2 separate regions of the Homo sapiens genome follow, and region 2 is linked to region 1. Evidence: fine-mapped expression QTL. Tissue or cell type: aorta. Region 1 holds a variant in brackets; the other region holds the start of a gene. All regions are shown on one strand. Distances are from middle to middle.

The links. PIP is the estimated chance that this variant, and not a neighbour inherited with it, causes the effect.
Region 2: it holds the start of TCF7L1, and the variant in region 1 is fine-mapped to the expression of TCF7L1 in aorta (GTEx, PIP 0.91).

Annotation. Positions count from the first base shown.
Region 1 is chr2:85,260,521-85,268,621 of GRCh38, reverse strand. All of the region lies in intron 3 of TCF7L1 (transcription factor 7 like 1), which reads right to left. It also overlaps the pseudogene SNRPEP11. Among named protein-coding and RNA genes, the nearest start is that of TGOLN2, 63 kb to the left of the region's middle. RefSeq lists enhancers at 5,157-6,084, 8,068-8,101. The variant A/G (reference allele first, on the strand shown) is at 3,998.
Region 2 is chr2:85,128,880-85,136,980 of GRCh38, reverse strand. TCF7L1 (transcription factor 7 like 1) reads right to left here and starts at 3,589. Exons shown (of 12, transcript NM_031283.3): 1 at 3,048-3,589; 2 at 2,902-2,965; 3 at 2,531-2,658. The coding sequence starts at 3,296. RefSeq lists enhancers at 1,256-1,829, 1,830-2,404, 2,980-3,554 and a silencer at 3,920-3,989.

The DNA of each region.
Region 1 (8,101 bases):
AAAAGTACAAAAACTAGCCGGGCATGGTGGCGGGCGCCTGTAATCCCAGCTACTCACGAGGCAGAGGTTGCAGTGAACCGAAATCGTGCCACTGCACTCCAGCCTGGGTGACGTGAGCGAGACTCCGTCTCAAAAAAAAAAAAAAAAAAAGGCATCCAATCTTATTCGCCCTTTGGGTCCCCACGGCCTTAAGCACAGCATATCATTTGTGAGAGGTGCTTGATGACTATTGCAGGGTGTTCTAGGATTAACCAAATTAGAGGTGCAAGTCCTTCTCTCTGGAGGTGCTGCCTCCCAGGCAGCTCTAGTGGAAATGTTGTCTGCAAAGGCAATTAGCGGTCACACTCCTGGGGTTGTTGCCACAGACCCTAATTTAGCTGACCTAGGGTGAGAACAGAGAAACCATCACCTTTTGGGAGAATGATGGATAGAGGGAATGGGAAAGTCCGCTGCCACTGGGGACCCTATCAGGTGAGTAAGACTCCATTTACCTAAAGTGATCAAATAAAAAACATTTACCAATATCATATCTGCTTCTATTTTTATATTTTCCCCTACAGTTAATACATTATTAAAAAACAAACAAAAACATTCTAATCTTTTGTAGCTGGGGGCCTTGATGCTGGGATTCTTCTGTTCAGCCCCACTGTGGAATACAGCACTTCTGAAATTCATACTCTGTTTGATATTAATATCATTTCAGATAAGCAAATAAGTATGTGCCAAAGCCAGGGACAGGAAACTGTCTGCATAAATCTTGGATAAACAGATTTCTTTAAAGAAAACATTTAGTGATGCGTTACCTTGTGCCAGATACTCCATGTGTTATTTCGTTTAACCCCCACAGCCTTATAAGTTGATGCTATTATTATCCTCATTTAACAGATGGAGGGATTAAGGTACAAAGAGGTTAACTAACTTGCCCCAGTCTATCCCAAACCCAAAAGCCAACTCTTTTTTTTTTTTTTTTTTGAGACAGAGTCTTTCCTCTGTCGCCCAGGTTGGAGTGCAATGGTGCGATCTTGGCTCACTGCAACCTCCGCCTCCTGGGCTCAAGTGATTTTCCTGCCTCAGCCTCCTGAGTAACTAGGATTACAGGTGTGCGCCACCACACCAGCTAATTTTTGTATTTTTAGTAAAGACAGGGGTTCACCATGTTGGCCAGGTTGGTCTTGAACTCCTGACCTCAAGTGATCCACCTGCCTCGGCCTCCCAAAGTGCTGAGATTACAGGTGTGAGCCACCATGCCCAGCCCCAAAGGCCAACTCTTTTTTTTTTTTTTTTTTTTTTTGAGACAGAGCCTCGCTCTGTTGCCCAGGCTGGAGTGCAGTGGCACAATCTTGGTTCACTGCAACCTCCGCCTCCCGGGTTCAAGTGATTCTTCCACCTCAGCCTCCCAAGTAGCTGGAATACAGGTGCACACCCAGCTAATTTTTGTATTTTTGTAGAGACAGGGTTTCACCACGTTAGCCAGGCTGGTCTTGAACTCCTGACCTCAAGTGATCCGCCCGCCTCGGCCTCCCAAAGTGGTGGGATTACAGGCATGAGCCACCACACCTGGCCAAGGCCAACTCTCAATCCTTTCATTATGCTAGTGCTGGAAGAGAAGAAAACATACCACTCCTGCAGCCCATCCTGGCACTCCTCAGATAAGGGCAGTCAGGCCCATGGGGTGAGCTGTCCCACCAAGGTCACGGAGGACACTGGCAGAGCTGGGATCAGAACAACCCAGGTGTCCTGGCCGCCAGCTACAGAACAGCTATGATGGATCAGGTTATTTTTTTTACAACACATAAACATAAAAATAATTGGAAGGGGATGAAATACTAATGTAAGCAAATCAATATTATAAATACCAATCTGAGAAGTCATAAAACACAACAAAAGAATACTTGTATTATTGAAAGTTTCAATATGGATAAGCCGTAAGGCATGCAGAGCATGCTCAACAGCTCCACACTGCCCCCTGGTGGTTCCCAAGTCCCCACCGGAAGCATGCTGGACCAATGACCAGCGGGAAACAAAGGCCCTGGACAAGGATACCTGCTGCACTGAAAACCCCAGGAGCCGGTGACCTGGTGGGCCAGACAACAAAGATCCTCCTGGGCTGGGCATCAAGCCGTCAAGGAAAATCTCTGGGTTCCACTCCCATTTGTTTGCAGAATTTGAGATAAAGAAGTTATGAACTCAGTAATGAGTTAACTACTTTTAGTCTCTCATGTTGGCAGTGGCCTTTTCCCCCTTTAATTACCACAGGCACTTTTTAATACCCTGGTGGTGGGAAAGTAAATTAGTAAATCCTGTCTTGTGCAATTTGGAAGTATGTATCAAGTCTTCTGAAGGCTTACTGTCTCTAGGAATGCATCCTAAGGAAATAATTAAGGATGCAAGCAAAATATAGCTGCAAGGATGTTCACTGAAGAGCTGTTTATAATAGCTGAAAGATATTAAATGCCTTATGCTGCAATTATGATATCTGAATTTATGTAGTAGGTGGTTATTTACAGAAACAGAAAGGTGTTTACACTGTTAAGTGAAAAAGCAAGATACGAAACATGTATTTCCACCTGTGTAATGGGGAGTGCTTAAAAAAAGAAAAAACATGTATTGAATCCTACTTTTACTTGTAATTTTGTAAAACAGGTATCTTTATGTATGTGTTGAGAAATCTGGAAGAATATACACTAAGAGGTGAGTTGAACTTAATCTCTCTGGGAGACAAGATTATGGGTGTTTTTATTTTATTCTTTTGGCTAAACATACATTGATTTTAAAAGGTAAATGCAAATATATGCAATGGGAATCACTTTTTAATTAAAAAAATTAAATATATAAAAACACTCAAAAAAAAAAAACCCAGTAAAGTCTATATTCAAATCTTCAGCCTCTCATTTCTGAACTTCTGAGTGCTGTTTTATTTTGAATGGGGTCTTGCCCCTGACAACCTTCCCAACCGTTCCCATTAGGGCCTGGAAAAATGTGACCTCAGCCGTTTGGAAGCCTTCAATGGTTCCTGGGCAACATACGCTGGGGCCAGTAAGTGCTGTGACTGCCAGCTGCACGAGTCCTTCCTTGGCTGAGGAAGGGTCCACTCTACAGCCCCGCCCTGGACACTCTCCTCCACTCTTTCCCTTCCAGAGGGATTCCCCTCTGGGGGAAGGTCTGGGCGCCAATTCAACCAGAGGAGACAACCCAGTCTGCTAGTTCTCAGATCTCACTGGCACCAGGGCTGCTGGGAGGAGCTTTAAAAACACTGATTCCTGTCTGCGTTCCCCATTATGATTTAACTCTTCCAGGGTGGGGCTTAAGCATCTACTTTTTTTTTTTTTAAGCTCCCAGGTAATATTAATGTGCGATCAGAGTGGTCCCCAAATGCTCACACCTACCCCTCCATAACTTTCTGTAGTTTCTACCCATTGTTTGGGCTTCTCTTTCAAAGATGACCTTCCTGGATCTATGGTCCTGTCTCTTTTACACTCTTCTTTCACAGCCCAGAGCAAGCATCCACCCACTTACCCATTAAACACTGTTTAGTGCTACTGTGTGCCAGGTTCATGGTTCTCCCCTACCTAAATCCTTGCCTAGAATACATATCTTCATTCCGGTGGATCCATTATAAGGCTCAAGGTGGAAGTTTCTGGTAAAAATGGAGAATCTATAACCTGACAGCAGCCCTCATAAATTAGCCATCACAAAGTGAGACAGGAAATGCCCACACAAGTTTCCTGATGGTTTATTGGACAAATTCAATATCATAACCCATATGCCATAAACACTCCTAACGGCGTTAGCACATTACATGCCTTCTTTCTGGGTTGGGAGAGGGGCTGCAACACATTCCCCCAACTCTCCAATCAAATCCAGGGCTTGGTCTTTATGGAATTTCAAGCATCCAGGCTAGGCTAGTTGGGTTAGGGAGGAGGGTACATTTCAGAGCACAAAGGCTCTAAAAACATTTCTCAAATCCCCTGTCACTTCCTGACTGACCTAGTAGAAC[A/G]CCAATTCTAGGCATAGCCTGTGCATGAAGTTGGTTACAGAACTTAACTTTCACAAGCAGCTGTTTGAGGACCGAGACTGGGTGGTGATCAGGTCTTGTTCAGGCCTGATGATGACCTGAAAATTCCACATCTTTGCCACTTCCTTCCTGAGCCCCCAGTTCCTATCCAGACTCTGAAACCCAATCACTGACCAGGTGACAACTCCATCTCATGTCCGAGGATTTGTGATGCATGCACAGCACCAGACTGGGTAGGTGTGGCCCATTTGAATACTTTTTTGTAAGTCCACTGGCCAAATTCTCATTTGATCCACCTTGATTTTCCATATTCCATTCTATCCATTCCTGGAGGTCAGGAGTACTCACGTAGTCACTCAGATACACGCTGAATTAAACTCCAAGTCATGGTTCAAATGGGTCATTGATTTCTTCCTCTTCAATTTCCATTTTTCCCTTCAAAGAAGGAAGAATGGGCAGGAAAAATCAGTGCAATTGGCTGGAGACCCACAGTTGGATGGGCCCTGTGCTGAGGCCGTCTCTCCCTTACAAGCTCTTTACAAAACCGTCAAACCCCCACTGTCAATGCCTCCACTCCCTCCAATCATTCGGCCCACTGCCACCTGCCTTCCACGTCACTGGCCCTGTTTTCGCTAAGGCCACTGCTGACCTCCTAACTACCAAACCCAATGTCATCTTCCAGGTCTTTTTCCTAAGAGGCCCCTCAGCTTCTGGGGCACCCTTTCGGCTGGTTTTCCACTTACTCCTCCAGCCGCTCCTCAGAACCTTGGCCTATGCCTCGAAAGCTGGTGTTCTCTGGGTAGTCTCCTCCTCCCCCTGCAGGTTGGCACCCACGCGGTGATCACGCTCATCTCTGCAGCTGGCTCCAGCCTTCCTCCTCATCTCCAAGTGCTTCCTTGACACCGTGCTACAGGCAGCTCAATCCCACACAGACTCATCAAAATCCAGCCCTGATCCTGTTTCCTACATCCTATCAACCAAGGCTCCTTTGAAAGTGAAAGGGAACACCTTTAACAATTATGATGGATGATGTAAACCAGGACATGCGGTCACCCTGAGTATTGTACAAACCTTGGGGATCATTCTGGCCTCTTCTCTTTCCCTCACTCTCTACAACTGACAGGGGACCAAGTCTTGTCATTCTAACTTGGACTGTCTCTCCAATTGTTCCCCTTCATCTCTGCTGCTCACTGCCCTGGACCTCTGTAAAGACTCTGAGCTGCCCTCCTGCCGGCAGCCCCTCCCCAGGCCAGCCCACCCTTCCTGTGATTGCATTACTTCCCCCCCTCCACCCTACCCCCAACAAAAGCTCCAGCGGTTCCCGATGCCTGCTCAGTGGGCATTAAAGCCCTGGCCTACCCTTCCCATCTCCAACTGCCTATTCCCAACAACACCCTCCATCCATTTTCTAGCCAGCCAATCATTCCATTCTCTGAGTGTTTCACTATTTATGCCCCCAAGTCTTTTGCCAAAAGGCTGCCATGCTTTTGCCAGTGACTGGACTACCACCCTGGGTACCTTTGGTCATTGGCCCAAGTGAAGGCAAAGGGCTGCTGAGGGACCGCAGCTTTCCCCAGTTGCACATGGAAAAGGTGCAACTGTCATGATGTAGATGACACTCTCTCCTTCTCCCTCTCTCTCTCTGAGGCCCTTCTTTCTGGAGTTCCATAGCCACTGGCCTGGCCCAAGTTTGGGGTAGGGGTAGGGTATCTGAAGCCACTGCAGTAGCAAGTACCCTGTGTTAGCCTCTAGTTCCCCGCTCTTGGGTGTCATTTCTTCCCGGGTCCATGAGTAGCCTTCCAAAGGGAATCTGCTGGAGAACTTATTGGAGGATGGCATCAGGCTCCAACTCTAGGGACCACAACCCATATGCTTGTTCTCTAATTGCTTTCAGAGTTCCGGAGAGACCCTGTGAGTTCCTGGGTATCCCCCATGTATATGATGGGGAATTCATTCTGCTGGTTTGATCTCTTTTCCTTTGGGCAACATCTTTAAAAAAAGTCTTCCTTGGAGACTTCAAACCTGGATCTTTAACAAGTCCTTGATGAAATGCTTGGAAATGCTCGTGTTTTTACCCTGGACTTGACAGCAGCCTCTACAGACTCCTTTCTCCATATTCTGCTTGGCTTGTCAGAGGCCAGAGGGATCCAAAAGAATTCCTCAGGGGAGGAAGCCCTAAGCCTACATCTTATTCTTTTTAGTTTTTTTTTTTTTCTTTTAAGAGACGGTGTCTTGATTCTGGAAGTTGCTCTCAGAGGCAGCGTGCGGGTGTGCTCTTTGTGAAATTCCACCATGGCATACCATGGCCAGGGCCAGAAAGTGCAGAAGGTGAAGATGCGCCCATCAACCTCATCTTCAGATACTTACAAAATAGATCGCAGATTCAGGTGTGGCTCTATGAGCAAGTGAATATGCGGACAGAAGGCTGTATCATTGGTTTTAATGAGTATACGAACCTTGTTATTAGATGATGCGGAAGAGATTCATTCTAAAACAAAGTCAAGAAAACAACTGGGTCGGATCATGCTAAAAGGAGGTATTCCTCTGCTACAAAGTGTCTCCAGCTAGAAATGATCAATGAAGTGAGAAATTGTTGAGAAGGATACAGTTTGTTTTTAGCTGTCCTTTGTCCAATATGAACATTTATTCATATTGTTTTGATTACCCTTATGTTATTACAAGATGGCAATAAATGCTATGGGATTGTTTGTCTTACAACAAAAAAAGAGATGCTGTCTTGCTCTGTTGCCCAGGCTGGAGTGCAGTGGCACGAACATGGCTCACTGTGGCCTCCTGGGCTCATGCGATCCTCCCACCTCAACCTCTTGAGTAGCTGGGACTATAGGCACACATCACCACACCCAGCTAATTTTTTTTTTTAACAGATGGGATCTTGCTATGTTGCCCAGGCTGGTCTCAAACTCCTGGCTTCAAGAATCCCACTGCCTCAGCCTCCCAAAGTGCTGGGATTACAGGTGTGAGCCACCACGCTTGGCTTCTTTTTAGCTTTGACAACATCTACTTCAACTCACCTGATTGCTTAGGCTGGGTTTTGGTTACAGCTAAGGCACAACTTCTTGTCCTTAACAACCTTTGTCAAGACACATGCTTGCTGGTGGAATCATGTACAGTCTCCACTTCACAAAGTCCTCTTCCAGGCATTGTCCAGGGAGGTATCCTTCGTGAGCACACACATGCTTCAAATCACAAACATGAAAATGATCTTCCTTTTAATGCCTGCTTTAAACAGCAGCCACTGGAGGTGGAGAATCCAGAGGTCTGGCCTGTGTAATACACTTCGATAGAAACCATGCCCTTGTGTACAGGCCTACGGGCCTTGTTATTATAGTTAACTTTTATGGTGGGTTTTAGGGGCTGAAAAAATTCTACTAATATTATTGGAAATACATTTTATAGCTTTGGCTATGAAATACCACACACACACACACACACACACACACACACACACACACACACACACACCAGCAATAATTGAGGAAGTAATTGAAAACAAATAACACTTGAGTATATGTGCAAATTCTACACAGGTGACTGCAAACCACAAAGATACTAATGAGAAATGGCAGACAGGTTCTTGGCAGGTAGGATCTCACAGGACGTGTGCAAGGCCTGTCACAGTAGATATGATAACTGAGGGAGAGCAAATTCTCAGTCATTGTAATAAAACCAAATCCCAGAAGAACTTCTTTTACATCCCAGAGTGGAGGACAACTATTTTAGGATGTTGCTGCTTGGACACACCTGTTCTATCAGAAGGGGCTGAGTATGTGATACTGAGTTTTCTTTTTTCCTTCTGTATCTTTTTCCCCTTTGTATCTGTGGTACACAGTACAGCACATTATTCAACATATGTTCATTAAATGGCCACCGAAACATCTTTCACACGGGTTAACAAATGGCCAGGCCTCACGTACAAGGTCTATTTGTCTGTTTTTTTTTTTTGAGATAGGGTCTCACTCTGTCACCGGGGTTGGAGTGCAGTGGCACGATCTTGGCTCACTGCAGCCTTGACCTCCCAGGGCTCAAGTAATCCTCCTACCTCAGTCCCCACCGGGTAGCTGGGAC
Region 2 (8,101 bases), 130 kb after region 1:
CTCCCCACTCGTATCTATCCACATTCATTTTACCAGGCTGGGAAACCAACAGAGGGCCACTTTGTCTGTACCTACCATTTGCCTACAGTGACAATTATCTTAATTATATTAATAGAATCGTTCAGCAGAAAACCATCATCTCCACCCTATAGTCCAGACAACCAAGTGCTTAAGTGTTTCCTCACTTGCTTTACTTACTGGCAGCAAACGAACAGGGTCAAATTAGGTTTAACTGTGCTGACCTAAGGGCAGGACACTTCCCCAGTATATCCGTGAACTAACACAGCGAAAGGCACACAGAGACACAGAAACACTGGGAACTGAACTAACTTCTGTAAGGGCAAGTCACCAGGGAGACAAGATGTAGGTATGGGGGTGGGATGGGACATACTAAGTCCCCAAGAAAGTACATGTCCTAGGAGGCTTGAAAGGAGGCTGGTGCCTGGGCCAGGGCAGGGAACAACTGCAGAGATGAACAAGGACAGTCAGAGAGGCATGCAGAGACGAAAGGTTGGCTGCCTCAAGGAGGGGCTCCAAAATCCCACACGGGCCTGGATTTAGTAATCAGGAATCTCCAGGATCAGCAAGAATCAGCCTTTGGAAGTTCTTAGGCGAAAGAACACATAATGTGATAGAAGGAAGGAAGGAGGGGACACTAACAAAAATCTGTCTCACTTGGACTGTCAGAGAGAGCAGACAGCAGAGCCTGGATGAATCAAAATGCCCTAAAGAGAAATGGGTGCATGGAGAAATAGCCTTGAGGGAGCCATAGTCATATTTGATGGTGAAATAGTCATTTCTGGTGACTTTAACTGCATCAGGACTTGGCTGAGGGCTGATGCACAGATGCTAGTGCCTCCCAGACCCCTCTCTCTAGATATCCTAATAGTAAATGGAAACCTGAGACTTTAGCGGCATTAACTCTCCCCCATACGCAAAGTTACACGAATCCCAACAAAACTTGCAGAACTAAGCTACATGTGTGGGCACTGGTGGGAATCACTGAAAACCTAAATAAGACCGCAGCAGCTCGTTGATCCCCCCCCCCCTTTGATTGGCACGCACCTCTTTTCTTTTAATGAGAAAAAGCAACAGCCATAGACCCACATCCAGTTTTCACTGCAAAACTGACACTTACATTCAGGACTTCCTGGGGTGCTCCAGGCCAGCAGGGCCAAAGCTGCAAGACCTCCCTCCCTCTCGGGGCAAAACTGTGAGGTCTGTGTAGTCCCACTCCCCATTCCCCTCTCTCTCAGTCAGAGTCTCTTCCACCGCCCCCCGTCAATCCCCCTCCAACCCATCTGGTGATGGTAGCGCCCCCGCTGAACCAAATGTGGAGGACTTGGCTCTCCACCGACCGCTGTACAATGACAGCAGGAATGGCCATTCAGCACCTAGCCTTTCTCTAGCACCCTTTAATTATCGTCGTTATTTTAGGGCAGTCTTAGCATAAAGTGTGTTGCTGGGACCCTGCTCCTAAGAGGCTAACACTCCCTGCCCCCTTACCCACCGTCGACAGCGAAGTGGCAGGCAATGGGAATCTGGGCGGGAAGCAAAGAACTACTACGATTCACATCGCGCCCAAGCAGCAGCACGCGGGAACCTGGCACACAGTAGGTAGGCGTTCACCCAACATCTGTCATCGGACCCAGCACCTGGGCAGGGAGCCTAGGGGTGGAGTGGCGGCTTGGGGGACACAAAGGCCTCGCCAGCCCCCAGCTGCGCCCCTCGCAACGCGGGGGGCGGGAGTTTAGAGCCAGAGAGAGGGGGCGAAGGAATCCGCCCTCATTTGCACGTCGTCTGGGGCCCGGTCAATTTGCTTAATCACCGCTCTAAATGCCAGCGGGCAGCACACAATACGCGCCCATTAACAGGTTTAAAGTGTCGCAGCGCTCGCTTTAAATGAGAAAAGCAGGCGACAAAAGGGGGAAAAAGCCAAGTTCCTCAACTTGAAGAATGCCTTGGGTCGCCTCGAAATCATCTACGCGAGTTTAAAATTCGGAGCTAGCTCCGCAGAAAAGCTGAGGCCCCGGTGCGAGGGCTGGGGGTGGGAACGGGGGCTGTGAATAACCCGCCACGAAAACTGGGTTTCTTAGGAACCAGCCTGCAGCCGCCCAGTGAACCCGGAGTCGGAGGACAACGTCGCCAACCCAGCTCCCTAGGCCCCTTGCCCCACTGCCAGAGAAAGCTGACCGATTTCCAAGAAGGAAAGCGAGACCCCCCCAAAGCGGGCACAAATCCAAGTTTCCTTCGGTGCAGGCGAAGAATTCTGGAGGCCAAGGAAGATCCCAGAGGTGGACTCCAAAACCTCAACCCGCAAGAGGGGAAAAGTTAAAGTAACTTTACTTTCATCCAGGCACTGGCCAGCGCAGCCTCGCGCTCGGCCGCCAGAGAGTAGTTCAACTCCGCAAACAAGTTCTGCTTGGGATCGGCGCAGAAGGCCCCATCCCCCACTCCATGGCCAAGCCCGGGGGCGCATCCTGCGGGCCGCGGCCTCCCACCCTCCCCGGCGCGCCCGACGGGCACTCACGGTGCGCGCTCCTCCGGGAGACAGGGGTCCGTTGGAGAGGTACGGGCTGCTCAGGTCCGGGATCATCAGGAAGGGGTACCCAGGGTACGGGGGTCCTTTAAAGAACGCGCTGTCCTGAGGCCTTCTCACTGCGAACAAGACCAAGGCGAGGTGAGGCCCAGGCCCCCGGGACTGACAGCGCCGCGGCAGGGGGCTCGAGGCGGGAGCTGGGGACCCCAGCGCCCCCCACGCGCGCCCCACGGGGGCTGCCGCCAATAAAGGCGGAGGGCAAGGGTGCGTCCACCCAAGCAAGGGGGACGGTGGGCCGCCCGGGCTGAGCAGCGGAGCGCAGCGGGAATCGAGAGTGGGGGGCTGTCCCAGCGGGCACATACCTTCGGCGAAATAGTCCCGCGGCTTCTGGAAAGTGTCCCGGACGGGCTGCGGGCGCCTCTCCGCCTGCGGAGGAGACACAAAGGCAAGAGCGGGTGAGCGGACGCAGGGCCGGGATCCCCCGGGGGTGGCCGCGGTGCTTCCTTACCTCCGAGTCCGAGCTGCTGCTCTGGTTCTCCGACTCGTTGACCAGGGACGACTTGACCTCGTCTAGGTCCCGCTGCGCCGAGGCGCTATCGCTGCTCGGCTCCTGCTCCTCGCCCCCCTCGTCCTGGAAGGGGATCAGCTCGTCGTTCGCCCCGAGGTCGTCCCCTCCGCCGGCCGCCCCGGCGCTGGAGCCGCCGCCTCCCCCGCTGCCGCCGCCGCCGCCGCCGCCCCCGCCGCCGAGCTGGGGCATGGTGGGGCCGCGGGCCGGGGCCGCCGCTCTCGGAGCCCCTAGCCGCCCGCGCCCTGCCCGGCCCGGCCCGGCGCCCCTCCCGCCCGCTTGCGGGCCCGCTGCGCTAGCCGCCGCAACAAAGTTTGACAGGGCGTGGCCCCGCGGGAAGCGGGCCCGGCGCTGCCCGGCCGGGGCGCAGGCGGCTCGGCTCGGGCCCCTCCGGCAGCGCCGAGCCTAGGGCTCCCCAACTCGCCACCGCCGCCGCCTGCTCCGCCGGGGCGTCCCAGCCCCTGGCCCGCCGGGGAGGGGCGAGCGGGGAGGGAGGGAGGAGGGACCGCCGGGCTGGGCAGGGGGGCCGGAGGGAGGAGCCCCGGCTGCAAGCTGACACCCGCGCGCCTCGCGGAACCCGGAGAGCTGCGGTGCGCGCGCACACACACACATACACACGCACTCACACTCACACGTTCACACTCGCATCTTCCAGGGGCTGCGTCTCCCTGCAACGTGCACCGCCCCCAACCCCCTCCTGCGCCTCACACTGCACCCTCGGCGGCCCTCCCCACGGCCTCCCTGGAGTCCTGGAAGTCTTGCGCCCACCCCTCCGCATCCCCTAACTTTCTCCCAAAGAACCTCCAGAACTCCGCGCAGGTTCCCACCCCCTCCCACCGTATCGGCGCGCGGGCGGGCGGCACTGCCCCCTGCGGGAAAGCCTCGGACGCACATACTGGCCGCGGGGCCCTCCCCCTGCCTAGAGTCCCTCCGAGTGCGCGAGCTGATGCACGGACTAGGACACTGGGGACATCTATGGAACCCCGGAAAATGCCCGGCGGCTTTCCGCGCCTTTTTCCTGTGGGGTTCCAACGCGACCCCCGGCCCAGGTTTTCAACCTTGTACAGATATACAGATTTCCCTGCTGAAATCTTGAAGATCACCTTTTCTTCATTGTTTGGGACTAGGTCCTAAATCGAAAAATCGCGGTCTTGGGTTCCAAAAGAATTTGGATTTGGTTCATTGAGAGGGAAAATTGCCTGTCCAGTGATCTCCGAAGCCATTCACAAAGCTGCGTGAGTAGCCAGTGAACACGAGAAAAATGCTCAACCAGCCTCATACCTAAGTAATGCCTGTGGTGCGAGCGCCACGGCCCGCGCCTGGAGTTCCATCTACTCCCGAGGCCTAGGCAGGAGGATCGCTGGAGCCCAGGAGTTTGAGACCAGCCTGGGCAACATAGCAAGACCTTGTCTCCAAAAAAAAAATTTTTTTAATAAAGAAATGCCTGTTACAATGACATTAAGATGTCGTTTCTCTCCAACCTGTGCGGGAAAGTTTGAGGAAAATGAATATCTTGTGTTATCCTCCGTGGGGAACTATTAGAGCATAAACTTTGAAAACAGCTTGGAAGGCAGTATGGAACTATGTAAAACTATTTTCAGCCCAACTGGCAGAAGAGTTTCTACAGAGGTGCCCGCACATATGGGCAAAGCCACATATGCTAGGTTCAAAGCATCAGAGAGCTTGGTGACATGCATTCTTCATCTTTCTTTACAGTGACAGTCCATGCAGCTGGCCAGTTCTATGCAGTGTCCCCGCCCCTCCCCCCACCCATACACACACACACACACACACACACACACACACACACACACACACACACAGGCACATGGACCAAGATTGATTTTGGAGGAACATCTTTAAATGAAACACTATATATGACACTCACTATTTTATTTTTGTTTTTAAAAAAATTATACACATTTATTTCTGCGTAGAAAAAAATCTGAGAAGATGCAAATTATTATCAATGACTATTTCTGGGAAAGGATAAGTGAAAGGAGATAGTTTTCTGGTTTCTATGAACTTTATAACAAGCAGATATGCCTTTTCTAATTTTTTACACAATACATGAGTACAGTCTCATAAAGCGTTTTCAAATAACAGATGTATCTTGAGCAGTATCGAGTAACAAGTAAAAGTTCCTCTTTCCCCCTCAGGACACAGGACCCTTCTAATTAACCACTTTCAGTTAACTGCCTCTGGTTAACCACTGTCACTAGTTTGGTATATATCCTTCCAGACACTTTCCTAGGCAGTTATGAACATATGTAAACGTATTTACAGATATTCTGATGTACATACATAGAATCATACTCTTTGTATTATTGTGTGTTATTTTATTTTTATAAGATTTAAAAGTCAGACGATTTTTCATGTTTATGGTCCATAAATATATGAAAAACCTATTGTACTAGTTTTCTGCTGCTACTGTCACAAATCACGAAAACTTGGTGGCTTAAAACAACAGAAGTTTATCCTCTCATAGTTGTGGAAGACAGAAGTCCACTGTCAGTTTCACTGAGTAGAAATGGAGGTGTTGACGGGGCCATGCTCCCTCTGGAGGCTCCGAAAAGAATCTACCCTTGTCTCTTGCAGCTTCTGGGGGCTTGTGACCACATCACTCCCACCCTTGCGTCTGTAATCACATTGCCTTCTCCTTTTTTTGTCTGTGACAAATTTTCCTCTGCCCCCTTCTTGTAAGAAACCATACTTGTGGCCGGGCACAGTGGCTCACGCCTGTAATCCCAGCTCTTTGGGAAACCAAGGCAGGTGGATCACGAGGTCAGGAGTTCCAGACCAGCCTGGCCAACATGGTGAAACCCTGTCTCTACCAAAAATACAAAAAATTGGCCAGGTGTGGTGGCAGGCGCCTGTAATCCCCGCTACTTGGGAGGCTGAGGCAGGAGAATCGCTTGAATTTGGAGGGAGGAGGTTGCAGTGAGCTGAGATGGCACCACTGCACTCCGGCCTTGGCGACAGAGTGAGACTCTGTCTCAAAAAAAAAAAAAAAAAAAAAAAAGTGATACTTGTGATAGCATTTAAGGACCACCTGGATAACCTGTCCATGTCAAAATCCTTAACTTCATATCTGCAAAGACCTCTTTTCCTTAAACATTCACAGTTTCCAGGGATTAGGTCATAGATGCAGCTTTGGGAGTAAGCCATTATCAGCCTGCCACACCTATAAACCAGAAATGCAAACGGAAACAGCATTGAGATAACCAGTTTTCATCTGTCAGATTGGCAAAGGAAGAAAAGAATGGTAACACCCAGCATTGGCCCCTATACTAAGAAGCACATAGATGCTGGGCCATTGTGTAACAGTTCTAAAGAGAAGTTTGGTAATACCTGTGAAATACCTTTAAAAGTGTGAACCCTTTGACTTATCCACGTACTTCTAGGATTTTATCTGAAGGAAACAACTAGGTACAAAAATAAACCTGTAGAAGTGTGTTCATCACAGTGAAAAAATCTAGAAACAATTTCAATGTCCCCTATAGGGAATTATTAAGTTAAATCATGGTGCATTCATCTAATGGAATGTTATGACATTGTGGAGATATATTTGTCAATATAGAAGGAGGCTCATAATGGTAAGCAAAAGTAGCAAATTAAAATTAACATGTAGACTTCCACTTCCCATTCTAATGGGGTATTGATGTCAGATTGACTCCTTCATCAAGAACAACTAACTATAAACTGGATAAAATACCAAAATAAAACAACAAAACCCAGCTGAGTTGAAGGCATCACTGTCAACCAAGTCAGCCAGGACGTGAGGAGTCAAAATACCAGAAGGGAAATTCATTCAAGCGAGTTTGTATTCACTGCTGTTTCATCCCCTCAGAGAATTTGGTGATTTGTAGCACCAGGCATAGAGGCCAAACCAAAAACAACCATCTAGAGCAGCATACTACAGCTTGCTGCCTGTTTTTGAATGGTCTCAGCTAAGACTTTTTTTTTTTACTTTTTTTTTTTTTTTTTTGAGACGGAGTTTCACTCTTGTTGCCCAGACTGGAGTGCAATGGTGCCATCTCGGCTCACTGCAACCTCCACCTCCCGAGTTCAAGCAATTTTCCTGCTTCAGCCTCCTGAGTAGCTGGGAATGTAGGCATGCACCACCACGCCCGGCTAATTTTGTATTTTTAGTAGAGACGGGGTTTCTCCATGTTGACCAGGCTGGTCTCGAATTCCTGACCTCAGGTGATCCGCCCAAGTGCTGGTTTTACAGGTGTGAGCCACGTCGCCCGGCCGCTTTTTTTACATTTTTAAGTGGTTGAAAAAGATCATAAGGGCCAGGCGCAGTGGCTCACGGCTGTAATCCCAGCACTTTGGGAGGCCGAGGCGGGTGGATCACCTGAGGTCAGAAATTCAAGACCATCCTGGTCAACACGGTGAAACCCCGTCTCTACTAAAAATACAAAAAATTAGCCGGTCGTGGTGGCGGGCGCCTGTAATCCCAGCTACTCAGGAGGCTGAGGCAGGAGAATGGCGTGAACCCGGGAGACGGAGCTTGCAGTGAGCCGAGATCGTGCCACTGCACTCCAGCCTGGGCGACAGAGCGAGACTCCGTTTCAAAAAAAAAAAAAAAAAAAAAATTAGCCAGGCGTGGTAGCAGATGCCTGTAACCCGGGAGGCGGAGGTTGCAGTGAGCCGAGATCGCGCCGTTGCGCTCCAGCCTGGGCAACAAGAGCGAAATTTTGTCCCAAAAAATAAAAATAAAAATAAGGATAATATTTATGACACATGAAAATTATATGAAATTCAAATATCAGTGTTGATAAAGTTTTATTGGAACATAGCCATACTCCTTAGCCTATACATTGCCAATGGCTGCTTTCACAAAACAATGATGGAGTTTAGGACATGTATTGCTTAATGATAGGGATACATTCTGAGAAATAGGCAATTTCATTGCTCTGTGAACATATGGAGTATACACAAACCTAGGTGGTATAGCCTACTACACACCTAGAGTATATGGTATAGCCTGT